Linked DNA regions of Homo sapiens. The protein of the gene in region 3 purifies or fractionates together with the protein of the main gene of each other region. This does not show direct contact. Each region holds a gene or a part of one and is shown on either strand. Other genes may lie near its edges. The genes, in order: PTPRF, MYRF and AP1S1.

Region 1 (3,289 bases), on a different chromosome or scaffold from region 3:
TGCCAGGCCTTCAGGCCCACCCACCCCAGCCCTCCAGGGGGCCAGTCCCACCTGCAGTGCACCGTGATAGGCCCATCCTGTCCAAACTGCTCCTTGGTCTTATGCACCTGCCCGATGAAGTCAATGAATCCCTCGCCTGTCTTGGGCACGCCCTGCTCTGGCCAGTCTGTGAACTGGAACTGCCGGATTGTCCTTGACTGCCCATCCTGGGAAAGGTGGGTGGGGTACATGATTAGAATTCGTGCCTTAGGCAGCCACCCCTCTGGACTAGACCAGGGTAGTACCATGATACAGGCATGCATCTGTGTCACTGCACCCGAGGCCACAGGGGGAGATGTGCTCACACCCTAATACCCACCCACCGCCTCAGATTTCTGAAGCTTGAGCTAAGGTACCATGCAGGCAGCCATCCACCCAGCGTGTGGACAGGCAGCGTTATGGACACACTCAATGCACTCACTCACCCGGGCATCCGTGACCTTGAACTCACGCAGGATATACTGGGGCATGTTGTACTCAGCCATCGGGTCAACAACAAAGTACTGGTAGCGAGCAGAGCGCTCTGCTGGCCAGTACTGGTGGCATTTCTCCTGTGGACAGAGGGTCGGGCCCCCATAATCAGGTGAGAAGGAATAGGGGAGGGGTGCCAGGCTTCACAGGATTCTGGGACAGATGCCTCAGGTAGTAATAACGGGCGCCTGAGGCCATGCTGACAAGCAGCTGGGGTGTCAAAGGAGACAGTAACATAGGCGGCAGCTCCCCCAAGGGTGGCTGGTGTTCTCCCAGGTATGACAGGGGCCCTGGGGGAAAGGGTGGGCTCACCCTGCCCATCTCCCGAAGCTTGGTCAGCATGACGATGATGGTGGAATTGTGCTCCCATAGCATGCGCCAGAAGTCCTCGGTGCTCTCTGCCAGAGGCCCCTGTGTAGCTATGTAGGCCTTCTGCTGTCTGGGGTGGACATAAGACTGGACATGCTGGAGGTGCTGCTGCCCCTAGAGTCTCCCCTTAGGCTGCCTAGCCCCTTGGGGCCCTGCTCAGATCACCCCTCCTCCAGGAAGTCCTCACTGCTCTACCCAGCCCTCTCTGGTCTTCTAGGCTGGCCCTACTCTGCTGCCCACCCCCACCAGCCAGGCACAGGCCTAGGCCCCTGTAGGGCATGGTGGGGCAGTGACATGCATGCTGACCTATAACCATCCAGGAAGCTGGCATTGATGTAGTCAGAGCCCTCCACACCACGGATGGGCTGCAGACACACACGGGTCAATTCGTAGGGCATGATGTTCACCAGCCGGTTCTTGAACTTGTTGCAGGGCAGGTTGGCGCTGATGAAGCGGGACGTGTGGGCCTTGGAGCTGGCCAGCAACTATTGAGAGGCAGGGATTGGTCAGGCCAGGCTTCCTGTGGGGGTGGGGGTCATCTGCATGACCCAGTCTAGGCCCTGGAGCCAAGCAGGCCCACCCGAGCCCCACCTTGAACTCGAGCTCCATGGCGGTCACACTCTCCCCTGGAGGCACTTGGCCCAGCTTCTGGATGTGGGCATACAGGTTGCGGGCAGGCACCTCTGTGTGGCCGCACGTGGCAGCCTCCAGCAGCGCCTCATGGATGAACACGTACTGGTCCTCCGTCTGCACCATGTAGTTCCTCTGTGATCGCATGCAGGTCACGTGGCCATAGATGTCCACCGTCTTCTCGTGCTTCATCCGCTCCAACATGGCATCAATCACGATGAAGCAGCCGGTGCGGCCCACGCCCGCGCTGCAGGACACGGGCTCAGCTTGAGGCACAGGCGCCCCCACCTCCCACCCCACCCACCCCTCTGGGTGGCACTGTACCCTCTCACCTGCAGTGCACCACCATGGGCCCTGCGTCTAGGGGGTTGCAGGCCTTGACCCGTCGTAGGAAGGCCAGGATGGGAGTTGGGTACTCAGGAACTCCATGGTCTGGCCAGGCCATGAACTGAAACTGACGCAGCTCGCGCTTCTCACTGGAGCCACTCTGGGGGACAAAGTGGGGACATACTGGCGACTAGGAGCCTACCTGCCATAGACTCAGGACTGAATGACCTGATGCTGAGGCCATACCCGCCACTTCCCCATGGGACTCAGAAGCCACACAGAGTAGCCTGAAGCTCCTAGCACTGTTCCCATAACATGGATCATCACATCACTCACACACCTGAGCCTCCGACCCTCCAACACCCAGGCTCCAGCTTCCCCCCGACCCAGCACACCACACCCAGGCCACTGTCCTTACAGTGTCTGGGTAAGAGATATGCACTGGGGAAAGGCTATACCTTGTGGAGTGCGAAGGTGCGCACAGTGTATGTGGCCAGCTCCACTGTGTCCAACAGGGTCACCTGAATAAGGCCACAGGTCTCGGTGCCACGGGCTGGCCAGTACTGATCACATTTTACCTGCAGGAGGATGAGCAGGGCAGGCTGAAGGAAGCCCACAGGCTCAGACGGGCAGAAGCAGGGTGGAGGCTGGTCAACTCCCTGGCTGTAGCCTTTCTGGCTACAAAGCCCCCCAGCCCTGAGCTCTCAGATCCATTGCCCCCTGTCCTCCACAAGCCACATCAGGTCCTCAAGCTATGTCACCGCCCTGCCCTAGCTAGTGGAATAAGGGTCATAATTGAAAATTATTTATTCAACGCCAGATCGCACCAGGCACATTTTCTGCCAAATTTACCCATAACGTTTATGTGCCATTTTCAAGCTCTGTAAATTTTACGTTCCAGTCAATGCTTTGCAGTCCAAAAACAGATAACAGCAGCTCTTTCCACTAATTAACTTAGGAGATGTGTTAATGCCCCAGGAACACTCCAGCATCTGGGGAACACATGAATACCCCGGGAACACGCCAGCAACTGGGGAACACATTAACATTCTCCGAAAATGACAGCATTTGGTGAAACATATTAACATCTTAAGGAACCCACTAGCATGTGGGGAACATGCTGTATCCCAGAAACACCCAGTATTTGGGGAGCATAATACCCCCAGTAACAATAGCATCTGGGGATCACTTGAGCGACTTCCTCCACAGAAGAAAGCGGCACAGAAGAAGGTGCCCTGTATCACCTTGTGGCTGGGCATTTCCCACCCGCCTCCTGGCAGGGCCCTGCAGCCTCACCCGGGACTTCTCCTCCAGCCGTGTCATCATGACCACAGTGGCCGTGCGCTGTTCCCACACCATCCTCCAGAAATCACCCATGGTCTCGGGCAGGGGGCCCTGCGTGGCGATGTAGGCATTCTGCTTGCGGTAGCCATCGATGTAGTTGGCATTGATG
Region 2 (3,647 bases), on a different chromosome or scaffold from region 3:
GGGGCCACGCCGGTGTGTAGGCACAGATGGGCACAGGTGACCCTGGTGGAGACCTGTGTCCACCCCAAGCTGCAGGGTCTCTACCTGGCACCTGGTGGCCTGCCTGCCCTGGTCCCTGTGGGAGAGAGTAGGAACAGGTCGCAGCTGCTGGCCTCGGTGCTGTTGGACCTGGCTTTGGAGCATCTTGGGGCTGTGAGTTCAGCCTTATGTTGACCTGAGGACAGGGCGGCAGCTTCATGGGGACTTGGAGTGGATGTAGCCATAGCCCAAGGGTGGCTAAAGATTCTGGGTCTCCTAGAAGAGAGGGTTCTCCGGCTGGGCCAGTGGCTCATGCCTGTAATCCCAGCACTTTGGGAGGCCGAGGCAGGTGGATCACCTGAGGTCAGGAGTTCGAGACCAGCCTGGCCAACATAGTGAAATCCCGTCTCTACAAAAAATACAACAATTAGCCAGGCGTGGTGGCAGGCGCCTGTAGTCCCAGCTCCTTGGGAGGCTGAGGTGGGAGAATCACTTGAACTCAGGAGGCGGAAGTTGCAGTGAGCCAAGATTGTGCCACTGCACTCCAGCCTGGGCAACAGAGTGAAACTTTGTCTCAAAAAGAAAGGTAAAAAAAAAAGAGAGGGGTCTCTGTAGGCAGCCTGTGGGGGCTCTTCTGCATTTTTGGTAAGAAGCTGGGAGAGAACAAAGACTACTGTGACTCAGATCGAAGAACCTGATAGAAAAACGGCTCAAGAGCCCCATCTTTGTCAGGTGTGGCTGCTGGGCCCAAGCTAACTGAGATTTGATGCGGAGAGGCAAAGGGTTGCTTGCACAAGCAAACATCTGACCTGAAGGCATTTTGACTAAGACGGCTCTGGTCACAAGTTGAAGCCTGAAGCAGGGCAGCTAGCAGTTATAGATTTTTTTTTTTTGAGACAGAGTCTCACTCTGTCGCCCAGGCTGGAGTGTGGTGGCACGATCTCGGCTCACTGCAACCTCCGCCTCCCGGTTTCAAGTGATTCTCCTGCCTCAGCCTCCTGAGTAGCTGGGATTACAGGCACGTGCCACCATGCCTGGCTAATTTTTGTATTTTTAGGAGAGACAGCGTTTCACCATGTTGATCAAGCTGGTCTCGAACTCCTGACCTTGTGATCTGCCCACCTCGGCCTCCCAAAGTGCTGGGATTACAGGTGTGAGCCACCGCGCCTGGCCATAGATCATATTAATAAAGAGAGAAAGCCCAAACCAAAGGAGGTGAGGCCACTGTGCCTTGCCCCCATGTAAACTGGTTGGGAGATGAGCCACAGCACTGGGGGCCCTCTGTGACTGGGGCGATGGGGAGGGGCTGCCAGGGCAGGCAGGGAGGCAGTCGCAGAAGGCTGACCCACTGGAAGGGATGGCTGGGGCCGAGGCCCGGAGGCTGGACTGTGCTGTGCATGTGTAAGAATAGCAGCAGAGTGCTGACCATGCCTCAGAGGGACTTAGGAGAAGGTGAGGATGTCCCTCGGAGGCTCTGGAGCACGTGTGCAGCAAGGCGGAGGGGCCTGGGGGAGAGGGGACAGCCTGGGCGGAGGTGTGCAGGCAGGAAAGGAGATGGGAGTCCTAAGAGAGATGGAAACAGGGCGGTTCACCCTGACTGCGGAATGGCCTCCTGGGGGTCACCTCGTTTAAGGTTCACTCCATGGCAGGGATTCGTGCTCCATCTGATGGAGAAGGAAGCCAGGGCTCAGGTCACTTGCTGAGGGTCATAGCCATCAAGTGGGAAGTCCACATTAGAAACCAGGCCTCTTTGACTCTGGAGGTCTCTCTGGGCATCGTGGTTATGCCCAGGTGGGCTGTCCCTTGACTGCTACCACCCTGGCCCTCAGCTGCTGCCTGAAGCTAGGGCATCCTTCAGGTTCAGATGCTCTGAGAGGACACTCAGAGCAACTGGGGTTGTCGGAAATAGGCCTGGGCCCTGGTGTCCTCTGCACCCCAGGTTCAGATCCACCAAGCCTGGCCAGCATCCTCGGGCCCCGGCCCACCCTACCCACAGCCACGTGGCTGACGGGATTTCCGCCATGTTTGGGGCATGAATTGACAAGTGCCTCATTGACGGGGCAGGGGAGGGGGTGGGCAGGGCACAAGCCTCCCACTGTGCCGTGTCCCCACCCTCCCCCGTTCCCCGGGACAATGGCCGAGACTCAGCCAACGGCCACAGCTGGTGGGGGGGGGGGCACATAAGCACAAGGAGGGGCGGAAGGGAGGGGTCCTGGGTGGAGGGACCACCTGGGCCCCTGCCTGCTCTCATCCTGCACCTGGCTTGGGTGCCCTCCGTTCCTTTCCTGGCCAGCTGGGGTGGCCTTAAGGAGACGAGGAGAGAAGAGCGGAGCGGAGGGGAGGGGGCTGCCTTCCCATAGTCTGGATCGCAGCCTGCCTGGGAAGGGGCAGTGTCTGGTTCCTGTTCCAGGCAGGTAATAAAGGGCCTAATTAATGAGGAGCAGCTGAGGCACACAGCTCAGCAGGGCAGGGGCAGGACCTGGAGGGGCCCCAGGTAGCCCCGGCCCTGGCCACAGCATGGCCTGGCCGAGGTCCCTCACTGGCCACTTGGCTCATCCACTCCGTGAACATTTCCTGGGTGCCTGCTGTGTGCTGGGATACTATATCCCAGAGAGACAGAACAGGGCAGCGCTCATAGCCCAGTGCCTGCCCCTGTAAGCTATGGGCACATGCCCATCCTTTCTGAGCCTCAGTTTCCTCATCTATAAAATGAAGAAAAAGAAAATCACCTACCTTGTAGGTTGGGATGAGAATTCAATATGAGCCATGTAAAGTGCATGGCACAGGGCTGGGCACAGAGTGGCCACTGGGCGAGTGAGCTGTGGGTGGTGGGCGGGTGGTGGACAGACACTCATCCTGCCCAGCGGGGTGTGTGTAGGCGGGAAGGTAAAGAACTGATGAGGAATTACAACGCCCCTGCCCATCCCTTGCTAAACAGAATGGGAGAGTCAGAGATGGCCTCTTGGGGGAATTTACATTTAAGACAAAACCTAAAGCCTGAATAGGACCTGGCTTTCTCAGGCTTAGGGAACAGCATGGAATGGCATGTGTGAAGGCCTTGATGTGGGATGGAGGATGGAAAGGAGGCAAGGGCTGACCACGGAGAGGAGGGGAGGCAGGGGACCTGGGGAAGGAGAAAAGGCTGTCGGGGGCAGGCAGGGGACCATGTCAGGCCTTGGACTGCCAGAGGGCTCCGGGTGTCTCCCCAGCAGTGGGAAGTTGTTGAAGGGTTTGAGAAGGGAAGGACAGAGATGCTGGTTTGTGAGCTCATGGTGCTGTTTTCGGGTTATTGGGCCCTGGGCAGCCTCGGGCAGCCTCTGGCGGGCCCGGCTTCCCTTCTCTCAGAGAGGTCTTGAGGATCAGAACGAGCCATATGGCCCATGTTCCGCTTCCTGCCTGGCAGGTACCCCTGCTTGGGCTCCAGTGATGTTCTGGGGCTCTTTTGGGAGCAGTGGGGAGGGGCGCTCCCGAGAGTGTGCCCATGGGACCCTGCCCCTGTCCTGGGTTCTTGGGGGCTCTATCCCAGCTTCGGCAAGCCCCCACCCTTGTCTTGTCCACCTGGAAAGTCTGTTAGAAATCTCCAGTGTGGTTCACGGGCGGGCTGGGGGCCGAGCGGCGTGGGAAAGAGA
Region 3 (3,747 bases):
AGTGGCCAGGTACCATTTTTGCAGCCGCAGTTTTCCCTGCCGGCTGAATAATAGCATGAACCGCATCTGTGGGGGATGGGAGGGCAGAACCGAGGGTAACCACACATTCCCCAAACTTATCTCCAGCTAATTCTTCTCTACTTTCTTCCAACATCCAGCCCCTTGCTCTCAAGGCTGGGTGTTTCCACCAGCAGGGGGAAGTCAGAGCTTCTGAGTCTGTCAGCTGGGTTCAAATCCTGGCTCTACTAGTTATGCAAGGCCTTGGCCCAATTACTACTGTAAGTCTCTGGGCCTCAGTTTCCTTATGTGTAAAATGGACATTGTACCTGCCTTGCACAGTTGTTAGGTGAGACTAAATGATTTGATATATGCAAGTCCCTAGCACAGGCAGGCAGTATAACATGTTAGCTATTATTATTATTATTTTTGAGACAGAGTCTCTCTCTGTCGCCCAGGCTGGAGTGCAGTGGCGCAATCACTGTTCAGTGCAATCTCCGCCTCCCAAGTTCCAGCGATTCTCCTGCCTCAGCCTCCTGAGTAGCTGGGATTACAGTCACGTGCCATCACGCCCGGCTAATATTTGTATTTTTAGTAGAGATGTGGTTTCACCATGTTGGCCAGGCCCTGGTCTCGAACTCCCGACCTCAGGTGATCCACCCACCTAGGCCTCCCAAAGTGCTGGCATTAAGGCATGAGCCACTGCGCCCGGCCGTTAGTTATTACTATTATTACCATGATTCCCTGACCTCTTGCTTTCTGGTCTGCTTTCTAAAGGTAAGTAAAATGCCTAGCACAGTGACAAGACGACAGTAACCGACGCCAAAGAAATGCCTGTTCTCTTCCACCCTCTCTCTATCCATCACCATGCTGAAATCTGGTATTTTGTCCCTGGAGAAGCTACCTCAATTTTCCACCCCATCATAGCCATAAGATCTTAATGATCTCCCAAACATATCATCCTCCAGTGCCAGGCCTATGCCCAGGGGTATCCTCCTCTGTAGTATGTATCTCCAACACCACACAGGGTATGCAGATGCCCAAATCCTATCTTCCTCTCTGCAGGCACCCAGGCATTTGGTCTTCGACATTTCTCTTTAACTTTTCTTCCTTTTAGGGTGCCTCCTGCTAAGCGCCCACTCCTCCCCAGACACCAGGTGACCAATTTCCCTCAGTTAGGGCCCCGCCACCCAGGGGGTTCCCCTAAAAGAATGTCTGCAGAACAGACAGCAAGCTGGGTCAAGTGGGATGGAAGACAGAACCCTCACTGCCCAGTGTACCCCAGCTTCCCAGTTCCGGGGGGTCTGGGCCACATCCTGGAGTCTTCTCCTTACCCCAGTAGCTCTTCTATTCATGGACATGCCCAGGCTTGGAATCCCTGGGTGTGTGGCACTGTACTAGCTTAGTAAGTGAAAAATCAGAATTCAGGAGAACTGATTTTTTTGGTGGAGGGGAAAAGAGGGGCGCTGGGGAGCCTCGTGCGGCGCTCAAATAGGGGGGTGGGGAGCAAGCAGGAAGACGGAAGGCCTGGATTCCGGAAAGAGAATGGGAAGGGGGGCAGAGAGCCCCGGAGCCCGGGATCCCAAAGCCTGGGTCCCTCGGAGAAAAACCACGAGTCCACTTCGCTTCCCTACCTGGGCCCAGCCTCTAGGCAAGCACGGCCACGAACGCAGTAGGGCGCTCCCTTTTCCGACCCGGAAACTCCCCTCCCACACCCCTCTCCCCACCCGGGTCCCCGCTCCCGCCTGTGCAGCCCGGGAAGGGGGTCTCGGTGACTGGTGACCCCCGCTCCCTCCCTCAGCAAAGAGACTCCCGCAACCCTCTGCTTCGGGCGGCTTCCCTGCAGCGGGGATCGAGGGACCCCAGGGGCCAAGACCAGAGCGCCCCTCCCGGCTCGGGACGGCCCCGCCGCCCCTTCGTCAGCCCCCGCTCGCCCTGCAAATGCGCCCCCTCCCCGCCCCTCTCCCGAATGCCACCTCCCCCTCTTCCTCCCGAGCCCGGCTCGCCCACCCGCCGAGGCAAGGGAGGCCTCTGAGGACCAGAGGGAAGACAGGGCGGTTCACCCCGAGGGCGGCCCCCGAGGACCCCCGCAGGTGCAGCCCACGCCCCTCGCTTCCCCCTCCCCTCCCTCTTCGCACAGCCTACCATCCTGCAGCCTCCGGCTCGGCGCGTCCCACTTCGGCCACCGTAGGCGCCAGTCCCACTCCCTTTCTTATCCTTTCTCCTGCTGCCCTCCCTCTCGCCCGAAGCCCCGCCCCGTCCCGCCCAGGCTCTGACTCCCGGCGCGCCACGCACTGCGCAGGCGCCGACGCCGCGGGGAGCGCGGGCGGGGCTGGAGGCGGAGAAGCGGAAACCATGGCAACCAGGTCCTTGACTGCAGCTTCTAGGAGCCCGGTCGTCATGGTAACGCGGCTGTCCTGTGGGCTGGTTGGAGGATGGGGGAGGAGGACAATAAGGTCCTCGCGCTTTGGAGCCTTGTGGGGCAAAAAGGCGGGAAAAGGGGTGAGAGGTGAATGGGACGATCATTGGAGTTCGAAGCAGCAGGCAGGACTCCTGGAAGGGGAGTGGGCCGTGAAAAGGGAGCAGGGTGGGAATTAAGTGTAGGGGAGGAGGAGTGACCTGGAAAACAGAAAGACAAAGGGTCATGAGAAAAGTATAGAACCCAAGCTGAATATCTATTGAAAGCGTGATAGATACACCCCTCTAGTTTTTTTCTTTTTAGAGACAGGGTCTGGCCGCGTCACCCAGGTTGGAGTGCAGTGGTGGGATCGTGACTCTCTGCAGCCTTGAACTCCTGGCCTCAAGCGATCCTCCCGCCTCAGCCTCCTGAGTAGCTGGGACTACAGACGCACACCGTCATGCCCAGCTAATTTTTAATTTTTTTTTAGTAGAGACGGGGGTCTTACTATGTTGCCCAGGCTGGTCTCGAACTCTTGGGTTCAAGAGACCCTCCCGCCTCGGTTTCCCAAACTGCTGGGATTACAGGCGTGAGCCACCGCGCCTGGCTTCTGATTTTACAGTAAGAGAAATGTGTAGAAAAAGAATAAAAGAGAAAAGGAGAGGCTGCTATAAAAGGCATGTAAGGAGAAGGGGGAGGAACGTGAACTGAGGCAAAAGGGGAAGAAATAAAGAGCGTCTTAAAAGGTTAACTTGGGTCAAAACTCAAAAAGGGACAGATGTCACCCAAATCTCAGTGTGAAGATGAGGTGGATGTACGTTGTAATATGGGCTTTTAAACTGAATGTGTGTGTGTGTCTACATGTTACTGGAAAAAGGGGTCCCGATCCAGACCCCAAGAGAGAATTCTTGGATCTCATGCAGGAAGGAACCCAAAGCAAGTCGTAGAGTGCGATGAGAAGAGAGAGTTTATTGAAAGCTACACCCTTACGGAGTAGGGCGTCCTCAGAAAGCAAACAGAGGAACACACTGTCTTAAGTTTTTCTTTTCTTTCTTTCTTTTTTTTTTTCTTCTTTTTTTGAGACAGGGTCTTACTCTGTTGCCCAGGCTGGAGTGTAGTAGCATGATCATAGTTCACTGCAGCCTCCACCTCCTGAGCTCAAGCGATCCTCCCACTTCAGTCTCCCAAGTAGCTAGGACTACAGGCATGCACCACCACAGCCAGCTAATAGTTGTATGTTTTGTAGACACAGGGTATTGTCATGCTACCCAAGCTGGTCTGGGACTCCTGGACTCAAGGTATCCACACTCCTCAGCCTCCCAAAGTGTTGGGATTACAGGTATGAGCCACCG

What was found.
Region 1: the proteins of AP1S1 (region 3) and PTPRF fractionate together in Homo sapiens (co-fractionation; one large-scale study listed by BioGRID). This does not show direct contact.
Region 2: the proteins of AP1S1 (region 3) and MYRF fractionate together in Homo sapiens (co-fractionation; one large-scale study listed by BioGRID). This does not show direct contact.

The regions. Positions count from the first base shown.
Region 1 is NC_000001.11:43,617,755-43,621,043, reverse strand, and holds part of PTPRF (receptor-type tyrosine-protein phosphatase F isoform 1 precursor), read right to left. Parts: coding exon 3,133-3,289; intron 2,415-3,132; coding exon 2,295-2,414; intron 1,997-2,294; coding exon 1,842-1,996; intron 1,757-1,841; coding exon 1,471-1,756; intron 1,365-1,470; coding exon 1,186-1,364; intron 950-1,185; coding exon 823-949; intron 591-822; coding exon 465-590; intron 207-464; coding exon 52-206; intron 1-51. UniProt on the Homo sapiens protein: Possible cell adhesion receptor. It possesses an intrinsic protein tyrosine phosphatase activity (PTPase) and dephosphorylates EPHA2 regulating its activity.
Region 2 is NC_000011.10:61,759,076-61,762,722, forward strand, and holds part of MYRF (myelin regulatory factor isoform 2 precursor), read left to right. Parts: intron 1-3,647.
Region 3 is NC_000007.14:101,152,913-101,156,659, reverse strand, and holds the start of AP1S1 (AP-1 complex subunit sigma-1A), read right to left. Parts: upstream 2,185-3,747; 5' UTR 2,146-2,184; coding exon 2,143-2,145; intron 67-2,142; coding exon 1-66. UniProt on the Homo sapiens protein: Subunit of clathrin-associated adaptor protein complex 1 that plays a role in protein sorting in the late-Golgi/trans-Golgi network (TGN) and/or endosomes.